2 separate regions of the Homo sapiens genome follow, and region 2 is linked to region 1. Evidence: fine-mapped expression QTL. Tissue or cell type: spinal cord. Region 1 holds a variant in brackets; the other region holds the start of a gene. All regions are shown on one strand. Distances are from middle to middle.

The links. PIP is the estimated chance that this variant, and not a neighbour inherited with it, causes the effect. A credible set is the group of variants that fine-mapping cannot tell apart.
Region 2: it holds the start of SCT, and the variant in region 1 is the best candidate, but not a certain one, in a credible set for the expression of SCT in spinal cord (GTEx, PIP 0.80).

The regions. Positions count from the first base shown.
Region 1 is chr11:645,245-655,984 of GRCh38, reverse strand. DEAF1 (DEAF1 transcription factor) reads left to right here. Exons shown (of 12, transcript NM_021008.4): 11 at 1,934-2,023. LOC124902603 (a long non-coding RNA gene) reads right to left here and starts at 962. Exons shown (of 2, transcript XR_007062543.1): 1 at 418-962. The variant C/G (reference allele first, on the strand shown) is at 7,734.
Region 2 is chr11:622,882-631,469 of GRCh38, reverse strand. It overlaps SCT (secretin), which reads left to right and starts at 4,289. Exons shown (of 4, transcript NM_021920.4): 1 at 4,289-4,397; 2 at 4,481-4,582; 3 at 4,681-4,773; 4 at 4,940-5,161. The coding sequence starts at 4,327. The coding sequence ends at 5,039. CDHR5 (cadherin related family member 5) reads left to right here and starts at 6,515. Exons shown (of 15, transcript NM_021924.5): 1 at 6,515-6,652; 2 at 6,738-6,913; 3 at 7,207-7,257. The coding sequence starts at 6,568. RefSeq lists a silencer at 4,367-4,661 and an enhancer at 4,255-4,755.

The DNA of each region.
Region 1 (10,740 bases):
TGGTCCGTGCCTGTAGTCCCAGCTGTGGGGAGGCTGAGGCACAAGAATCACTTAAACCCAGGAGGTGGAGGTTGCAGTGAGCCGAGATTGCGCCACTACACTCCAGCCTGGGCGACAGAGTGAGACTCCATCTCAAAAAAATAATAATAATAATAAATAAATAAAGTAGAGGCAGGGGGCAACCTAAATTAGCACCAAAATTCCTCCTAATGCTCCTGTTTTCTGAAGTGAGTGACTGAATGTCGGAGCTCTGAATGTCTTACAACTGGAAAAATGTTAAAGATCACGTTTGCGAAGGAGGGAGGCAAGCATCAGAACAGAACCTCGGAGCAGGTCTGCACGCGTGCAGGGGCCGTGGGGCCGCGCTGGAGTCGTTTCCTGTGCTGCTCTGTGCTGCTCACAGACGCTGCCACTCACCCACTGGCCACGGCCCCTCCCGCAGCTGCGGATGATCTGGGCGCATAGCGGGCGTGCAGGTCGCGGCGCCAAGGCCTCTCCTAGGCCCAGTGGTCTTCTCCGTCTCAGAGAGCATTGACGGCGGAGCTCACAACTGTCAAGCACCTTAGTCATGCCGCAAACATTAATCATTGACAGCATGTTGACCTATGCGCTGATTAAAAAGAAAAGCTCCAATAATGTAATTCCAGGAGAAAGTACACAAACCTCTGGTGGCATCTTTTCAATCCACCACAGAAACCAGCTCAGGTGGGGCCGTGGGGGTGTTGGCTGGGGCACCGCCGCAGCAGTTTGGGACACATGCCTGCCACGGTGCGCCCAGGCTGATGCCCACAGCCCTGCTCAGGAGTGTTGGGAGCGGTGGACTCCTGAGTTTGATTTTCTGTGCTGGCCTGGCTGGAGTGAAGCTCCTTGGAGTTTGGAGAAAGATTTCCATGCTGATTTCCCTTTGTTTTTGTTTGTTTGTTTGTTTGTTTGTTTTGGAGACAGTCTTGCTCTGTCGCCCAGGCTGGAGTGCAATGGTACAATCTCGGGGTTTCACCGTGTTAGCCAGGATGGTCTCGATCTCCTAACTTCGTGATCCGCCCACCTCAGCCTCCTAAAGTGCTGGGATTACAGGCATGAGCCACTGCATCCGGCCCTGATTTCCCTTTTTTTTTGAGATGGGAGTCTCGCTCTGTCACCCAGGCTGGAGTGCAGTAGTGCAATCTCGGTTCACTGCAACCTCCGCCTCCTGGGTGCAAGCTATTCTCCCACCTCAGCCTCCCAGGTAGCTGGGATTACAGGTGGCCACCACCACACCCAGCTAATTTTTGTATTTTTAGTAGAGACTGGGTTTCGCAACGTTGCCTGTGCTGAACTCCTGACCTCAGGTGATCCACCCGCCTCGGCTGCCCAAAGTCCTGGGATTACAGGTATGAGCCGCTGCTCCCGGCCCATACTGGTCTTCCAGTGAATGAATGTAGGGGGCAAACTGCACTGAGGCCAGGAAAGAGCTGATTCTGGAGGTGACAAGAACGTTCTGAGCAGCACTGGGGCAGAGGCGCAGTCAAGAGTCCAATGGGAGCTGGGCGCAGTGGCTCACGCCTGTAATCCCAGCACTTTGGGAGGCCGAGGCAGGTGGATCACGAGGTCAGAGGTTCAAGACCAGCCTGACCAACATGGTGAAACCCTGTCTCTACTAAAAATACACAAATTAGCTGGGCGTGGTGTCAGGCACCTATCATCCCAGACTCAGGAGGCTGAGACAGGAGAATTGCTTGAACCCAGGAGGCGGAAGTTGCAGTGAGCTGAGATCGCACCACGGCACTCCAGCCTGGGCGACAGAGTGAGACTCCATCTCAAAAAAAAAAAAAAAAAAAAAGGGGGTCCAATGGGGGGAACTTGGGGCCTCCTGCCTGCACCTGCCTCTGTCCCCGGTGTCTCAGGGGCTCTCCACGGCCACGTCACTGACTGGCCTGTTGTGTCCTTCTTGCAGCAGTCCTGCGTTAACTGCGGCCGGGAGGCTATGAGCGAGTGCACCGGCTGCCACAAGGTCAACTACTGCTCCACCTTCTGCCAACGCAAGGTAGGTCTCACCTACACCAGGCTCAGTGCCCCCGCCTCCTCCCTCGCTACGAAGACCCCTGGGTGGCCCTCCCTCCCCTTGTGCTCCTGGTGCCACACCTGACTCCCCTCCCTGTCCCTCCCTCTGGGAATCCGGGGCTCCTGCCTGGCTCCGTGAAGACCCTGCAGAAGGCTCACATGTGACATGGCCAGGTAGTGCTCTCATGTGAGGCCCCACAGTTGGTGGCCGGAAACCCTGAGGGCTGCTGGTCAGTGCTTCCCAGCCCTCCACACCCCTGCACAGCCACGCAAGAGAGACTGTCCACAGTTCCATTATTGAGCCCTCCACACCCCTGCAGAGCCACGTGAGAGAGACTGTCCACAGTTCCTCTATTATTCAGCCCTCCACACCCCTGCAGAGCCACGCAAGAGAGACTGTCCACAGTTCCTCTATTATTGAGCCCTCCACACCCCTGCAGAGCCACGCGAGAGAGACTGTCCACAGTTCTTCTATTATTGAGCCCTCCACACCCCTGCAGAGCCACGCGAGAGAGACTGTCCACAGTTCCTCTATTATTGAGCCCTCCACACCCCTGCAGAGCCACGCGAGAGAGAGCGTCCACAGTTCCTCTATTATTGAGCCCTCCACACCCCTGCAGAGCCACGCGAGAGAGAGACTGTCCACAGTTCCTCTATTATTGAGCCCTCCACACCCCTGCAGAGCCACGCGAGAGACAGCGTCCACAGTTCCTCTATTATTCAGCCCTCCGCTCCACAGAAATTCAAGAGAAATTTTGTAGGCTACAAACGGTAGTTCAGGATTGTATAACTTTGTCTACCATAATCAGAGTACTCGGGAGCATTTAGTCACTCTTTTTTTTTTTTTTTTTTTTTTTTTTTGAGACAGAGTCTCATTCTGTCACCCAGGCTGGAGTGCAGTGGTGCGATCTTGGCTCGCTGCAACCTCTGCCTCCCGGGTTCAAGCGATTCTCCTGCCTCAGCCTCCCGAGTAGCTGGGATTACAGGCATGCGCCACCATACCTGGCTAATTTTTGTATTTTTAGTAGAGACGGGGTCTCACCACGTTGGGCAAGCTGGTCTCGAACTCCTGACCTCAGGTGATCCACCCACCTTGGCCTCCCAAAGTGCTGGGATTTAGAGGTGTGAGCTACTGTTCCCAGCAGCTTTACTAATCTTTTTGATGGTTTTTTTTTCTCATATTTATGAGAGATGCTGGTCTATATTTTGTCCTGTGATGTCTTTGTTTCATGTTGGTGTCAGAGCAACACTGGCCTTTCAGATCAATTGGGAAGTGTGCCCTTCTGCCCTCCTTCTCTATTTTCTTTTTGAGACAGTTTTGCTCTGTAGCCCAGGCTGGAGTGCAGTGGCAAGATCTCGGCTCACTGCAACCTCTGCCTCCCGGGTTCAAGTGATTCTCCTACCTCAGCCTCCCGAGTAGCTGGGATTACAGGCATGCACCTCCACCCCCGGCTAATTTTTATGTTTTTAGTAGAGACAGGGTTTCACCATGTTGCCCAGGCTGGTCTCAAACTTCTGGCCTCAAGTGATCTGCCTGCCTCGGCCTCCCAAATTGCTGGGATTGCAAGTGTGAGCCACGGCACCCAGCCTGTGTTTCATCTTTATTCAGTTCGAATATTTTATGCAGTTGAAAATATTTGCCGTGTGATTTTTTTCTGTGACCTATGAGTTATTTGGAAGTGTGTGCTGGATTCAGGAGTAGATCTAAAAAAGAAGTATGCTAATTTCAAATATTTCTGGATTTCTTAAATGTACCTTTATAATTAATTTCTACTTTAATTACATTGTGGTTCAAGAACATACTTAGTGTTTTTCAGTACCTTTAAATTTATTGAGATTTGTGTTAGGGCCTAGCGTATGGTCTTATCATGGAGAGTGTTGCTTGTATATTCTGCTCTGTTGGGTGGAGTATTAGATATCAGTTAGGTTGGTTGATAGTATTGTTCAACTCTTTCATATTCTCACTGATTTTCTCTATTTGTTCTACCCCTTATTTAGAGTGAAGTGTTGAACTCTCCAGCTATTACTGTTGAATTATCTGGTTTTTGTTTTTGTTTTTGAGACGGAGTCTCGCTCTGTCGCCCAGGCTGGAGTGTAGTGGCGCCATCTCAGCTCACCGCAAGCTCCGCCTCCCAGGTTCACGCCATTCTCCTGCCTCAGCCTCCCGAGTAGCTGGGACCACAGGCACCCGCCACCACGCCCGGCTGATTTTTTGTATTTTTAGTAGAGACAGGGTTTCACTGTGTTAGCCAGGATGGTCTCGATCTCCTGACCTTGTGATCTGCCCTCCTCAGTCTCCTTTCAAAGTGCTGGGATTACAGGCGTGAGCCACCGTGCCCAGCTGAATTATCTGTTTTTATCTGCCATTATGCCTGTTTTTGCTTCATTTATTTTGGGTCTCTGTTGTTAGGTGCATGTATGTTTAGTTTATAATTATCATTCCTGATGAATTAGCTCTTTTATCATTATAAAACATCCTTCTTTGTCTCAATAAGTTTTTTATTTTTTATTTAATTTTTTTTTTTTTTTTCTTACAGAGATGGAGTCTTACTATGTTGACCAGCCTGGTCTCCATCTCCTGGCTTCGGGCGATCCTCCCATGTCAGCCTCCCAAAGTGCTAGGATTATAGGCATGAGGCACTACACCAGCCAACAGAAGTTTTTATATTAAAATTTACTTTTTCTAGCTGGGCACAGTGGCTCACGCCTGTCATCCCAGCACTTTGGGAGGCTGAGGCAGGTGGATCACCGGTCGGGAGTTTGAGACCAGCTTGGCTAACATGGTAAGACCCCATCTCTACTAAAAACACAAAAATTAGCCAGGCGTGGTGGCGCGTGCCTGTAATCCCAGCTACTAGCGGGGCTGAGGCAGGAGGATTGCTTGAACCTGGGAGGCGGAGGTTGCAGTAAGCCAAGATCACTCCACTGCACTCTAGTCTGGGCAACAGAGCGAGACTCCATCTCAAAAAAAAAAAATTACCTTTTCTGATAGTAGCATAGACACTCCACCTGTCTTATGGTGAATGTTTGCATCTTTTACTTTTGAGACAGAGTCTCACTCTGTCACCCAGACTGGAGCGCAGTGGCATGATCTTGACTCACGGCAGCCTCTACAGATACACGCCCCACGCCCAGCTAATTCTTTGTATTTTTAGTTGAGACGGGGTTTCGCCATTTTGCCCAGGCTGGTCTCGACCCCTTGGACTCAAGTGTTCCACCCCCGCTTGGCCTCCCAAAGTGCTGGGATGACAGGCATGAGTCACTGCGCCCAGCCTGCATCTTTTTAAAAAAAACCTTTTTGGCTGGGTGCAGTGGCCCACACCAGTCATCCCAACACTTTGGGAGGCCAAGAGGGGAGGATCTCTTGAGCCCAGGGCCAGCCTGGCCAACAAAGCGAGACCCTGTTTCTATTTTTTAATTAAATAAACATATAAATAAACAAACATCTTGTTACTTCTAATTTTGTGTCCTTGGCTCTTAAGCATTCCCTTAGAGACAGAATGTGGTTGGATCTTAGGTTTTAATCTAGTCTGATAGTCTCTGCCTTTTTTTTTTTTTTTTTTTTTTTTTTGAGACGGACTGTCACTCTGTCCCCCAGGCTGGAATGCAGTGGCTCCATCTCCACTCACTGCAACCTCCATCTCCTGGGTTCAAGTGATTCTCATAGCTCAGCCTCCCAAGTAGCTGGGATTACAGGCTCCTGCCACCACACTCAGCTAATTTTTGTATTTTTAATAGAGACGGGTTTCACCATGTTGGCCAGGCTGGTCTCAAACTCCTGACCTCAAGAGATTCACCCGCCTCAGCCTCCCAAAGTGGTGGGATTACAGGTGTGAACCACCACACTAGTCTCTGCCTTTTGATTGGAGTGTTTAATCTACTTTTTTGTTTTGTTTTTGTTTTTGTTTTTGTTTTTGTTTTTTAGACAATCTCACTCTGTCGCCAGGCTGGAGTGCAATGGCACGATCTCAGCCCACTGCAACCTCAACGTCCCGGGTTCAAGTGATTTCCCTTCCTCAGCCTCCTGAGTAGCTGGGATTATAGGCATGAGCCACCACGTCCAACTAATTTTTGTGTTTTTAGTAGAGATGGGGTTTCTCCGTGTTGGCAAGGCTGGTCTCGAACTCCTGACCTCAGGTGATCCACTCGCCTCAGCCTCCCAAAGTTCTAAGATTACAGGTGTGAGCCACCGCACTGGAACTCGGCCTGTTTTGTTTTTTGAATTGAGACAGAGTATCACTTTGTTGCCCAGGCTGGAGTGCACTGGCGTAATCTCGGCTCACTGCAGCCTCCACCTCCTGGGTTTAAGGGATTCTCGTGCCTCATTCTCCCGAGTAACTGGGACTGCAGGAGTGTGCCATCAGACCCGGCTAATTTTTGTACTTTTAGTAGACACAGGGTTTCACCATGTTGGTCAGGCTGGTCTTGAGCTCCTGACCTCAAGTGATCCGCCCGCCTCGGCCTCCCAAACTGCTGGGATTATAGGTGTGAGCCACCACACCCAGCTGTTTTGTTTTTTTTTTTAAGTGGGGTCTCTCTCTGTCACCCAGGCCAGAGTGCAGTGGCACAATCTCAGCTCAGTGCAACCTCCGCTTCCCGGGTTCAAGCAATACTCCTCCTTCAGCCTCCCAAGTAACTGGGATTACAGGCACCCGCCACCATGCCCGTTTTTGTTGTTGTTGTTGTGTGTGTGTGTGATGGAGTCTCGCACGGTTGCCCAGGCTAGAGTGCAGTGGCGCAATCTCGGCTCACTGCAGCCTCTGCCTCCCGGGTTCAAGCGATTCTCCTGCCTCAGCCTCCCAAGTAGTTGGGATTACAGGCATGCACCACCATGCCAGGCTAATTTTTGTATTTTTCGTAGAGAGAGGGTTTTGCCATGTTGGCCAGGCTGGTCTTGAACTCCTGGGCTCAAGTAACCCTCCCACCTTGGCCTCCCAAAGTGCTGGGATTATAGGCATGAGCCACTGCGCAAAACCTAATCTCATGTTTAATGTAATTATCAATGTGAGTGGATTTGTGTTTATATTTGCAGTTTATGTTTCATGTTTTGCTCCTCTGTTCTTTCACTGCCTTCTTTTCTGTTAAATGTGTATTTTCTAGTTGTGTTTTCTAGTGTACCACTTCAATTCTTTTGTTGAACATTTTTAAACAGTATCTTTAAAGTTGTTATTTTCTTACTGCTATAGGTATTACAATATACATTTTAATTTATCTCAGTTTCAGTAGGAGGATAGAATTTCCTCAAGCAGGGAAAGTGTACTGCAGAGGCTGAGTGTATACATTCCTGGCAAACACTATTTGGGCCCCAATATAAGCACTTACTGAGCTCCTTTCACCTACAGAACGAACACATCCCGTTCTTTTAAAAGCTGCCTTCCAGCCGGACCTCCAGCCCAGGACACCCTGTCCTCAAGCCTCCCTCAGATCCTGTTCTTTAAAAAGCTGCCTTCAGCTGGGCACGGTGGCTCACGCCTGTAATCCCAGCACTTTGGGAGGCCGAGGCGGGCGGATCACGAGGTCAGGAGATCGAGACCATCCTGGCTAACATGGTGAAACCCCGTCTCTACTAAAAATACAAAAAAATTAGCTTGGCGTGGTGGTGGGCGCCTGTAGTCCCAGGTACTCGGGAGGCTGAGGCAGGAGAATGGCATGAACCCGGGAGGCGGAGCTTGCAGTGAGCCGAGATCGTGCCA[C/G]AGCACTCCAGCCTGGGAGACAAAGGGAGACTCCGTCTCAAAAAAAAAAAAAAAAGGCAGTGATAATTTTAAAAATTAATTGTAGAGGACTTGGTATGTACACAAAAGTATACACGAGTTTATGCATGTTATGAAGCCCCAACAGGAATCCCCTGCTCCCAGCACCGCCTGGGTCAAGTCCACCCACCTGCTCCCAGCACCGCCTGGGTCAAGTCCACCCACCTGCTCCCAGCACCGCCTGGGTCAAGTCCACCCACCTGCTCCCAGCACCGCCTGGGTCAAGTCCACCCACCTGCTCCCAGCACCGCCTGGGTCAAGTCCACCCACCTGCTCCCAGCACCGCCTGGGTCAAGTCCACCCACCTGCTCCCAGCACCGCCTGGGTCAAGTCCACCCACCTGCTCCCAGCACCGCCTGGGTCAAGTCCACCCACCTGCTCCCAGCACTGCCTGGATTGAGTCACCTACGTGCTGTGGTGGCAACACTTTTCTTTTAATCCTTAACTTTGGAAAATGTGAGACGTGCACATGAGTTGGATCGCCCAGGAGAGGCCCGTCGCCCTCACCTGTATCAGCTGCTTTAGCGCCTGCCCTCCTGGCTTGTCCCCCTCTCTCTTTGGGCTGAGGGCTGAGCATTTTAAAGCAAGCCCCACGCATCATTATTTTCATTTGTGAGGCCTGGATCACTGTAAGTCAGATTTGGATTGTGTTTTAATTGGATTTTTAGTCACTGTTTTTATTTCATTACTTATTTTTGGTTTTTATTTGTTCGTTTGTTTTTGGTTTTGTTTCTGTTTTTGAGACAGGGTCTGGCTCTGTCACCCAGGCTGGAGTGCAGCGGCGCGATCTTGGCTCACTGCAACCTCCACTTCCCAGGTTCAAGCGATTCTCCTGCCTCAGCCTCCCTAGTAGCTGGGGATTACAGGCACCCGCCACCACGTCCGGCTAATTTTTGTATTTTTAGCAGAGACGGGGTTTCACCATGTTGTTCAGGCTGGTCTTGAACTCCTGACCTCATGATCTGCCTGCCTTGGCCTCCCAAAGTGCTGAGATTACTGGCATGAGCCACCGTACCCAGCCTATTTTAGGTTTTCTATAGACAGGGTCTCGCTTTGTCACCCAGGCTGCAGTCCAGTGGTGCCATCACGGCTCACTACAGCCTTGATCTCCTGGCTCAAGTGATCCTCCTGCCTCTGTCTCCCAAGTAGCTTGGACCACAGGCATGAGCCACCACACCCAGCTAATTTTAAAACATTTTTTTTTTTTTATAGAGATAGGGTTTTGCTATGTTGCTCAGGCTGGTCTCCAACCCCTGACCTCAAGTGACCTCAACCTCCCGAAGTCATTGTTTTTACAGTCTGTGATGTTGGCTTTTCTCATTTATTTGTATCAGGCACTTTCATTGTTAGCTTCTTGTGAATTTAACCATTTTTTTCCGTTTTTCAAAAACTGAAACGCTAACTTCTAATTCTGGCTTTTCAGATAATGATTTTTTTTTCAAAAGTGTTTTAGCATTATACTGTAAGAAGCATCACATTGATGTTTAAGATGGAAAAATTTGCTTTAAAAAAGAACTGAGTAGTTCTGATTTTAAAAGTCAACCCTGGGCCTTTGCCTCTTTGCTGGAAGAACCTGATGGAAGCTTCTGTAGCTCAGAGTCAACACTGATGTGCGCCCTCTCTCCCTCCATCTGCACAGGCCCCAGGGAGTGGCTCAAACCTGTAGACCAGAGAAGGAAGCATCTAGAACTCCTGGGGGCCTTGTCCGCCGCCCACATCCTCTCACGGGGGGCAGCTCCCATGAGGGGTGCAGGCCCCTCACCCCACACAGAGTCTCGGCAGGAACCGGAACCCTTCCTGGTTGCCCCAGAGTGGAGGCCCGGGAGGGGCGGGCGGTGGGTCTGCACCCGATGCTGCAGTTTGCTGATGTATGTGCTTTCATGCTATGTAGATTTATAGTCTATTACCAGGTAATTTTAATTTTTTTTTTTTTTTTTTTTTTGAGACGTAGTCTCACTCTGTCGCCCGGGCTGGAGTGCCGTGGCACAATCTTGGCTTACTGCAACCTCTGCCTCCCAGGTTCAAGTGATTCTTGTGCCTCAGCCTCCCAAGTAGCTGAGATTGCAGGTGCGCATGACCACAGGCGGCTAGTTTTTGTATTTTTAGTAGAGATGGGGTTTTGCCATGTTGGGCAGGCTGGTCTCGAGCTCCTGGCCTCAGGTGATCTGCCCACCTCGGCCTCCCAACATGATGGGATTACAGCCGTGAACCACTGCGCCCGGCCTAATTTTGCTCTTTTATTATAATCAGCTGGAATTCTGCTCTCTAGGGAATAACTCTGTCACCATTTGGAAGCATTTATTTCTGCTCTGTGTGTCATATACGTACCTATCACGCCCCCGTGCACGGAGCTGCCTCTGTCTGACGAGGCCGTCTCAGCTTCAGCACCTGGCGCTTCCTCTAGAGCTCTGCTCCATTCCGAGGTGCTCGACGTAGCAGGGAGGCAGAGCCTGGTTCTGTGTGCTGACCTCACAGGAGCTGTGGCTTCTCCCAGGCACCATCCCCCACCTCCTTTCTCTGCAGCCACGGGCTGGTTCCAGTTTGCTTTTTCATCTTTGCCATTAAAAACAGAACTGGGGCGGGGCGCAGTGGCTCACACCTGTCATCCCAGCACTTTGGGAGGCCGAGGCGGGCAGATCCCCTGAGGTCAGGAGTTCGAGACCAGCCTGACCAACATGGTGAAACCCTGTCTCTACTAAAAATGCAAAACATTAGCCAGGTGTGGTGGCGTGCACCTGTAATCCCAGCTGCTAGGGAGGCTGAGGCAAGAGAATTGCTTGAACCCAGGAGGCAGAGGTCGTGGTGAGCCGAGATTGCGCGTTACACTCCAGCCTGGGAAACAAGAGCGAAACTCTGTCCGAAAAACAACAAAAAAACCCCCACAGAACTTGATCGTAATTTACATATGTAATATTTACATATTTAAATGTTTTTCTGCATGTGTGATATT
Region 2 (8,588 bases), 23 kb after region 1:
AGAATCGCCTGAACCTGGGAGGTGGAGGTTGCAATGAGCCGAGATCGCACCATTGCACTCCAGTCTGGGTGACAGAGCGAGACTCCGTCCCCAAAACAAACAAACAAACAAAAAATATACATATGTCACACACAAATGGCCACAAAGCACTTGAAAAGATGCTCAACCTCATTAGTCACTGGGGAAATGCAAATCAAAACCACAGTAAGATACCATTCCATATCCATTAGGATGGCCATGGTAGTAAATAAATAAATAAATAAATAAATAAAAATACCAAGTGTTAAGGATGAGGAGACATTCACTGCTTTTGGGAATATAAAATGGTCACTGTGAGAAGAAGTCCAGCAGTTCCTCAACAAGTTTCACGTAGAGTTGCCATATGACTCAGTGGGTATGTTACATACCCAAAAGAAGTGAAGACAGGTGTTCAAATAAAAGCTTGTATGTAAATGTTCACAGCGGCACTATTCACAATATACAAAAGGGGCCGGGCATGGTGGCTCACGCCTGTAATCTCAGCACTTTGGGAGACCGAGGTGGGCAGATTGCTTGAGGCCAGAAGTTCAAGACCAGCCTGGCCAACATGGTGAAACCCCATCTCCACTGAAAATACACAAAGTACTGGCCGGGCACAGTGGCTCATGCCTGTAACCCTAGCACTTTGGGAGGCCGAGGCGGGTGGATCACCTGAGACCTGGAGTTGGAGACCAGCCTGGCCAACAGGGTTAAACCCCGTCTCTACTAAAAATACAAAAATTAGCCGGGCGTGGCAGGTGCCTGTAATCCCAGCTACTTGGGAGGCTGAGGCAGGAGAATAGCTTGAACCCGGGAGGCGGAGGTTGCAGTGAGCTGAGATCAGGTCAGTGCACTCCAGCCTGGGTGACAGAGTGAGAGTCCGTCTCTAAAGTAAATAAATAAATAAATATTTTTTAAAAATACAAAAATTAGGGGGTGTGGTGGTGCATGCCTGTAGTCCCACTACTTAGGAGGCTGAGGCAGGGGAATCACTTAAACCTGGTAGGCGGAGGTTGCAGTGAGCGGAGATCATATACTGCACTCCAGCCTGGGCAACAGAACGAGATTCTGTCTCAAGCAGACAAACAAACACAATATATACAAGGTAGAAATAAACCAAACGTCCTCAGCAGGTGAATGGATGAACCAAATGCAGTGTGATTTTTCCATTAAAATGAATGAAATTCTGGGGCCAGGCGCGGTGGCTCCTGCGTGTAATCCCAGCACTTTGGGAGGCTGAGGCGGGCGGATCACCTGAGGTCAGGAGTTCAAGACCAGCCTGACCAATATGGCAAAACCCTGCCTCCATGAAAAGTACACAATTAGCTGGGCATGGTGGTGCTGTAATCCCAGCAACTCCAGAGGCTGAGGCAGGAGAATTGCTTGAACCCAGAAGGCGGAAGTTGCAGTGGGCCAAGATCGCGCCATTGCACTCCAGTCTGGGCAACAAGAGTGAAACTCCATCTCAAAACAAATAAATAAAAATAAATAAATAAATAAAAATAGTGACCAGGGTCTTGCTATGTTTCCCAGGCTGGTCTCGAACTCCTGGCCTCAAACCATCCTCCTGCCTCACCGTCTCAAGTAGCCGAGACCACAGGCATGTACCACCATGCCCAGCTTTTAGGATTTTATTGGTATGAAATACCCAGAACAGGCAGATCCACAGAGACAGAAAGTAAATTCATTGTTACTCAGGAGCTGAAGGGATGGGGGAAGGGGAGGTAAATGCTTTATGGATTTGAGATTTTCCATCTGGGGAGTAAAAAGTTCTGGAACTAAACAGCGGTGCTGGTTGTATAATTCCGTGACCGTACTAAGTATCACTTCATACTTTAAAATGGCTAAAATGGTAAGTTTCATGTTATGCATGTTTTCCCACAATAAAAAAAAAAACAAAACTCAGCAGTAGAGAACAATTTAAAAACGGGCAAGAGATGTGAAGATACATTTAACCCACGACAACATGCAAATGGAAACAAGCACCTGGAAAGAGGTTCGGAATCACCCGCCACTGGGGAAATGCAACTAAGACCACAAGGAGGTGTTGCCGCAGAGAGAATGGCTGAAGGTTAAAAATAGCGACTGCAGGGATGTTGACAGTGTGCAGAGAAAGTGAGGCCGGGCGCTGTGGCTCACGCCTGTAATCCCAGTGCTTTGGAAGGCCGAGGCAGGTGGATCACTTGAGGTCAGGAGTTTCAGACCAGCCTGGGCAACATGGTGAAACCCTGTCTCTACTAAAAATATAAAAATTAGCCAGTCATAGTGGCAGGCACCTGTAATCCCAGCTACTTGGAGGGCCGAGGCACAAGAACTGCTTGAAACCGGGAGGCGGAGGTTGCAGTGAGCTGAGATGGCCCCACGGCACTCCAGCCTGGGTGACAGAACGAGACTCCCTCTGAAAAAGAAAGAAAGGAAGGAAAGAAAGGAAGAAAGGAAGAAGAAAGGAAGAAAGGAAGAAAAAGAAAAAAAGAAAGAAAGAAAGAAAGAAAGAAAAAGAAAGAAAGAAAGAAAGAAAGAAAGAAAGAAAGAAAGAAAGAAAGAAAGAAAGAAAAGCAAGCAAGCCAGCAAGCCAGCCAGCCAGCCAGCCCCACATTGCTGGCGGGGCTGTGAAATGATGCAAACGCTGGGGAAAATATTGTGGCTGATTTAACAGACGGATACAGTGCATGACTCGCAACCACAGCAGAACATCAAAGGGCTTGACGGCCATTTCTCCGTCCACTCCATGATGTATAAATGGCTCACAGACACTTGAGAACATGCTCCACATCGCTGGCCATTAGGGAGATGCCAATCAAAACCGCAGCGAGACACCACGTCGCACCCACCGGCATCGTTAGTACGCGACAAACAAAAAGCCACAAAGTAGCAAGTGTTGGCGAGGACAAGAACCGTGTCCCTGCTGCGCTGCTGGGAAGACAGTTTGGCGTTTCCTCAGAATATTTAACACATAATTACTCTGTCACCCAGCAATTCCCTCATAACTATACACCAAGAACGCTTGAAAACGGGATCGGGAAGCGCCGTTTGCACACCCACGTTCACAGCAGCGTTACTCGCCGTCGCCCCAAAGGGGAGGCAGCCCAGGTGTCCATCAAGATGCCCACAGATGAGCGGACGCGGTCGATGCGGTCCCTGCACACAGCGGGACACAGTTCCCCACAAAAGGGAAGGAGATTCCCACACAGGCCAGGCCGCGGCGGCGAAGGCGGAGGATGCTGCGCTGAGAATCCAGCCGGTCTCCAAAGGACAAATCCCGTGAGGCTCCCCCTGCGCGCAGTCCCTGGAAGCGCTGAATCCACAGACAGAAAGTGGACGGGGCGCCGGGGCTGAGGAGGGGAGGGGGCGTTTGATGGGGACAGAGCTTCATTCTGGGAGGACAGGAGAGTCTGAGAACGGATTTTGGGAGGACGGGAGCGTCTGTGAACGGATTTTGGGAGGACGGGAGCGTCTGTGAACGGATTTTGGGAGGACGGGAGCGTCTGTGAACAGATTTTGAGAGGACGGGAGAGTCTGAGAACGGATTTTGGGAGGACGGAAGAGTCTGAGAATGGATTTTTGGAGGACGGAAGAGTCTGAGAACGGATTTTGGGAGGACGGGAGCGTCTGTGAACGATTTTGGGAGGACGGGAGCGTCTGTGAACGATTTTGGGAGGACGGGAGCGTCTGTGAACGATTTTGGGAGGACGGGAGCGTCTGTGAACGGATTTTGGGAGGACGGGAGCGTCTGTGAACGGATTTTGGGAGGACGGGAGCGTCTGTGAACGGATTTTGGGAGGACGGGAAAGTCTGAGAACGGATGGTGGGGATGGATGCACCGAATGATCCTGAATCGCGCACTTCAAAGCAGATAAAATGGCAACACCGGCCCCCCAACAGTCACGCCACGCTGAAGCTGGAGACGAACTCGCCCCAGCAAGGTGCTCCAGGGGCCTCCGGAACTCCGGCCGCAGCCCCTTCCCCGGGGCCCCCCAGTCCCCCCCCAAACCCTCCCCCAAGCCCTCCGGCCCCTCCGCCCCCGCAGGCTCCGAGGCTTCGCGGTGCGGTTCCCTCTGCGGGTCCCAGGCCCGCGCTCCGTTCGCCCCCCAGGCCGGGACGTCCCCCTCCCCCAGCCGGCCGAGGGGCGCCAGCGCGGCGGAGGGGGCGGGAGGCCGGGCCGGGGCGACAGCTGGGGGGGCGGCCCTGACCTTCCCGGGATCGCTGGGCGCGGCCGGGCCGTCCCCTTTCCGGGCGCCGCCATAAAGGGGCCTTGCGGGGGCCCGGGGCCGTGGCCGCAGCGCTCAGCTCCTGCGCCCCGACCCCGCCATGGCCCCCCGGCCCCTCCTGCTGCTGCTGCTGCTCCTCGGGGGCTCCGCCGCGCGCCCCGCGCCCCCCAGGTGAGCCGCCCGCCAGGCCCGCCCGCCCCCCGGGCCCCACCCGCCCCCAGTGCGCCCTGACCCCGACCCCCGACCGCCCGCAGGGCCCGGCGACACTCAGACGGGACGTTCACCAGCGAGCTCAGCCGCCTGCGGGAGGGCGCGCGGCTCCAGCGGCTGCTACAGGGCCTGGTGGGGAAGCGCAGGTGAGGCCGGGTGGGGTGGGGGGTCCTGGCGTGGTGCCCCAGCAGCAACGCGCGACCCCCCAGCTCCAGGACTAACTCTGTTTTGGGGCGGGGGGCAGCGAGCAGGACGCAGAGAACAGCATGGCCTGGACCAGGCTCAGCGCGGGTCTGCTCTGCCCGTCAGGGTCCAACATGCCCATCCTGCAGGCCTGGTGAGCACCCGCCCCACCGCAGACCCCACTCCAGACCCCACCCCAGACCCCTCCTTCTGTCCTGGCCTCCCCGGGTCAGCGCTGGTGGCCACTGGAGGCCCAATTCCAGCAGCGGGGCCGGGGTCTCCAGCCCCAGCCCTCAGACCCTCACGTGCTGTCTCTGCAGGATGCCCCTGGACGGGACCTGGTCTCCCTGGCTGCCCCCTGGGCCTATGGTTTCAGAACCAGCTGGCGCTGCTGCAGAAGGAACCTTGCGGCCCAGATGAGGAAGGAACCCCCTCACCACCTGCCCGGCCCAGGAGCGCAGCTGCATTTGGGGTGGGGGGCAGGATGGGGGAGAGGGGGAGGGGTGGTACTTGGCACCAATAAAGGAGGAATCAGACCCAGACGCTGGGAGTTGTCTGTGTCCACTCAGTGTAATCGAGGCAACCCCTGTGTAGCGGGGCTGAGGGATGGATGGAGGCCCATCCACCCAGGAGGGACTGACCACACCCAGCTGCCCTTTACACCTGCAGGCACGGCGGCCCCTCATCCTTATCTCTGGCATCAGGGCCACCTCCTGTACCTCGACTAAGTACTGCAGGGCCCCGCCCCACCCCTTGTCATCCATTAGGAAACATTCTGGGGCTCGGGGGATCCCGGACACCCTCTCAGCTCCTGCCCGGGGGCCCATGTGGTCAGTGTTTCTGTAAGGGGTAGTGGGGAGGGTGTGAAGGGGCCAGGGGGGCTCAGGCGGGCAGGAAGAGGGGAGGGTGGAGGTGTCACCTGGGGTGCCAGGAATCCACTCTGGCGTGAGGACTCCGGACCCTCTGTCTCGTGTGGCCTCGGACCAGTGGCTTGACCCCTCAGAGCCTGTGGAGCACGGAGCGTGCAGGGCTTGAAGGCGACCATGAGGGCACCGTGCAGGGTTAGGACACTGAGCCCAGCCCCAGCCATGAGAGGCCAGAAGCTTCGGCGCACAGGCCTGGAGGAGGAGAACTCCACCTACCCCTCACGACAGCCACTTCCTCGCCCCGACCCTACCCAGTGGCCTCTCCCTAGAGCTGGGGGCTTCTGGGGGGCCAATGAAAAGAGCAGGGCAAGTGTCGAGTCTCACCTCACCCCCTCTGTCGGGCACCAGGGCCCCCCAGGAACTCCCAGCTGCCCCTCACAGCCCCGCCTTAGCCTCAGTCACTAAGGCCCTGTCCAGCCCCGCCCTGAGAAGCCGACTTGTCTCTGGGGCAGGCAGGGGTGTCCCCAGGACACAGTGAGGAGAGCCTTTTCCTTCAGAACCTGCTGTCAGGCAGGGAGGGAGGTGCTCCCTGGGGAACACCCGGGTTCTGAGCCTCAAGGGGTGGCCTTAGGAACTTTGCCTGAGGGAGATCTTAGGGGAGGAGCCAAGCCAGGGCAGCCTGGGCTAGGGAGGCAGGTTCCAGACACCCCGACACCAAGGGCCGAGCCCCCGCCCCCAGCCCCCAGCTTCTCTCCCACACCCTAGCCCTGCCCCTGCCCTGCCCCTACCCCCACGGCACCCATGAGCCGCTCTCCAGTCCCTTCTGCCCTGTGCCTCGGTGCCTGTGACCTGAGCCCCCTGGTTGACCCCTGCACTCAGTCCAACTTGGGCCAAACGACTGCCCCTCCTTCTGGCAGTGGGCTGGACCAGCCGGCCAGCGGGAGCCCCCTTGGCAGAAGCCGGTCGTAAAGGATCATAAACTGGGCGGCGTCTGGCTGGGGCGAAGGTCGCTGAGGTAGGAACTGCGCCAGTCCTAGACGCCAGACCCGCTCAGACCCTCCTGCCAGGTGACAGCCGCCAAGATGGGGTCTTGGGCCCTGCTGTGGCCTCCCCTGCTGTTCACCGGGCTGCTCGTCCGACCCCCGGGGACCATGGCCCAGGCCCAGTGTATGTGCGGGCAGGGGTAGGTGGGGCACGGGCGGCGGGGAGCCAGGGGCTGGGAGGCACTGATCCCTCCTCTGCAACCTTACAGACTGCTCTGTGAACAAGGACATCTTTGAAGTAGAGGAGAACACAAATGTCACCGAGCCGCTGGTGGACATCCACGTCCCGGAGGGCCAGGAGGTGACCCTCGGAGCCTTGTCCACCCCCTTTGCATTTCGGATCCAGGGAAACCAGCTGTTTCTCAACGTGACTCCTGATTACGAGGTGTGGGCGGCAGGCGGGCGGGATATGGGGGTCCCGGGAGAAGGGCACCTGCATCCTCAGGCCACACCTCCCTTGGGGGCCTAGGAGTTCTATGCCTGCGGGCATCCACTGACACCCATGCTTGGTGGTGCCTGCCCTAGAAGGCTGGGCCATTTCGGGATGAAGCTGCCTGGGCCCACACCCTCAGCACTGACCACTGATGATGGGGACCCTGGGCCAGCGCCTGCCCACTTGGCCTCAGTCTCCCCACCTGTGGGGCAGGACGGTGACTGCAGACCTGTCTACATCCACAGGAGAAGTCACTGCTTGAGGCTCAGCTGCTGTGTCAGAGCGGAGGCACATTGGTGAGTCCCCGCCCCGCTCTCCCCGCCCCACCCGGCCACCTCTGCTGGGCTCTGCCCTGCCGGTCCAGGACCAGTCTTTGATGACGTCAGCTAGGGTGTGGTTTCAAATTCCACCCCCCCGAGGGTGATGCCCACATTTCCTCCAGTCCAGACTCTGCCCTGAGCTGTGGAGTCCCCGTCACTGACCCCTTGTCCAGCAGACACCCCATCCAGTGTGCCCAAGACTCCCACCCACTCCCTCAACCATCCACAAGGGAGGCACCTTTATCCTGCCAGTCACGGGGACCACCTTGGTTCCCACTCGCCCTCCCTCCCCACGTGTCCCCCACAGCCCCCCACTGGTAAATCTGTTGGCTGTGCCCCAGCTCGACCCAGAAATCCAGAGTCTGTCCACCTCCAGTCCCATCAGGGCCGGGACACCAGCACTCATTTTGGGAAACTTCCAGCTGGCCCACCGGCTTCCCTGTTGCCCTTTGCTGGCCCCAGTCCACTCCACGTGGCAGAACAGCCCCTGTGGATGTTGTAAACCAAGGCTGCCCAGCCCACCCCAGCCCTCCACGGCTCCTTTCTCACCGAGTCAAACCCAGACATACTGTGCAGAGGCTCCACTGCAGCCTCAGGGCTCCCGCCAGGCACGCCCCTCCCTCACCGGCTCAGGACTGCAGTCTTCAGAGAAATCCCAACCACCCTATGCCCTGTTGCATCCCAGCCCCGCTCCCCCAACATCCTGCTTCTTGACCGGCGGCATTTTTTTCGGCTTTATTAAGGAAAATTGCAGAATCCTGAGGCCAGCACAGGCCCCCTCACCTACCAGCACACAGCAGGCTCTGTGCCCTCCATGCACCACGGCACGTCACCTGCACATATCTTGGGATATGTCTCTGAAAGAGAGAGACTCTTTTTTGAGACAGAGTCTCACTCTGTCACCCAGGCTGGCGTGCAGTGGAGCGATCTCGGCTCACTGCAACTTCCGCCTCCCGGGTCCAAGCGATTCTCCTGCCTCAGCCTCTTGAGTAGCTGGGATTACAAGCATGCGCCACCACGGCCGGCTAATTTTTGTATTTTTAGTAGCGACGGGGTTTCTCCATGTTGGTCAGGCTGGTCTCAAACTCCTGACCTCAGGTGATCTGCCCGCCTCGGCCTCCCAAAGTGCTGGGATTACAGGTGTGAGCCACCGTGCCCGGCTGACAATCCAGTTTCTTCACAAATAAATCTCCAGGAAAAAAGATGGGAGAAAGGGAAAGGTACAGATGAACAGAAACTCAGGAGAATTACCAACCAGGTCCATAATGTGGGCCCTGATTCAAACAAACAATTGTTAAAAAACCCTT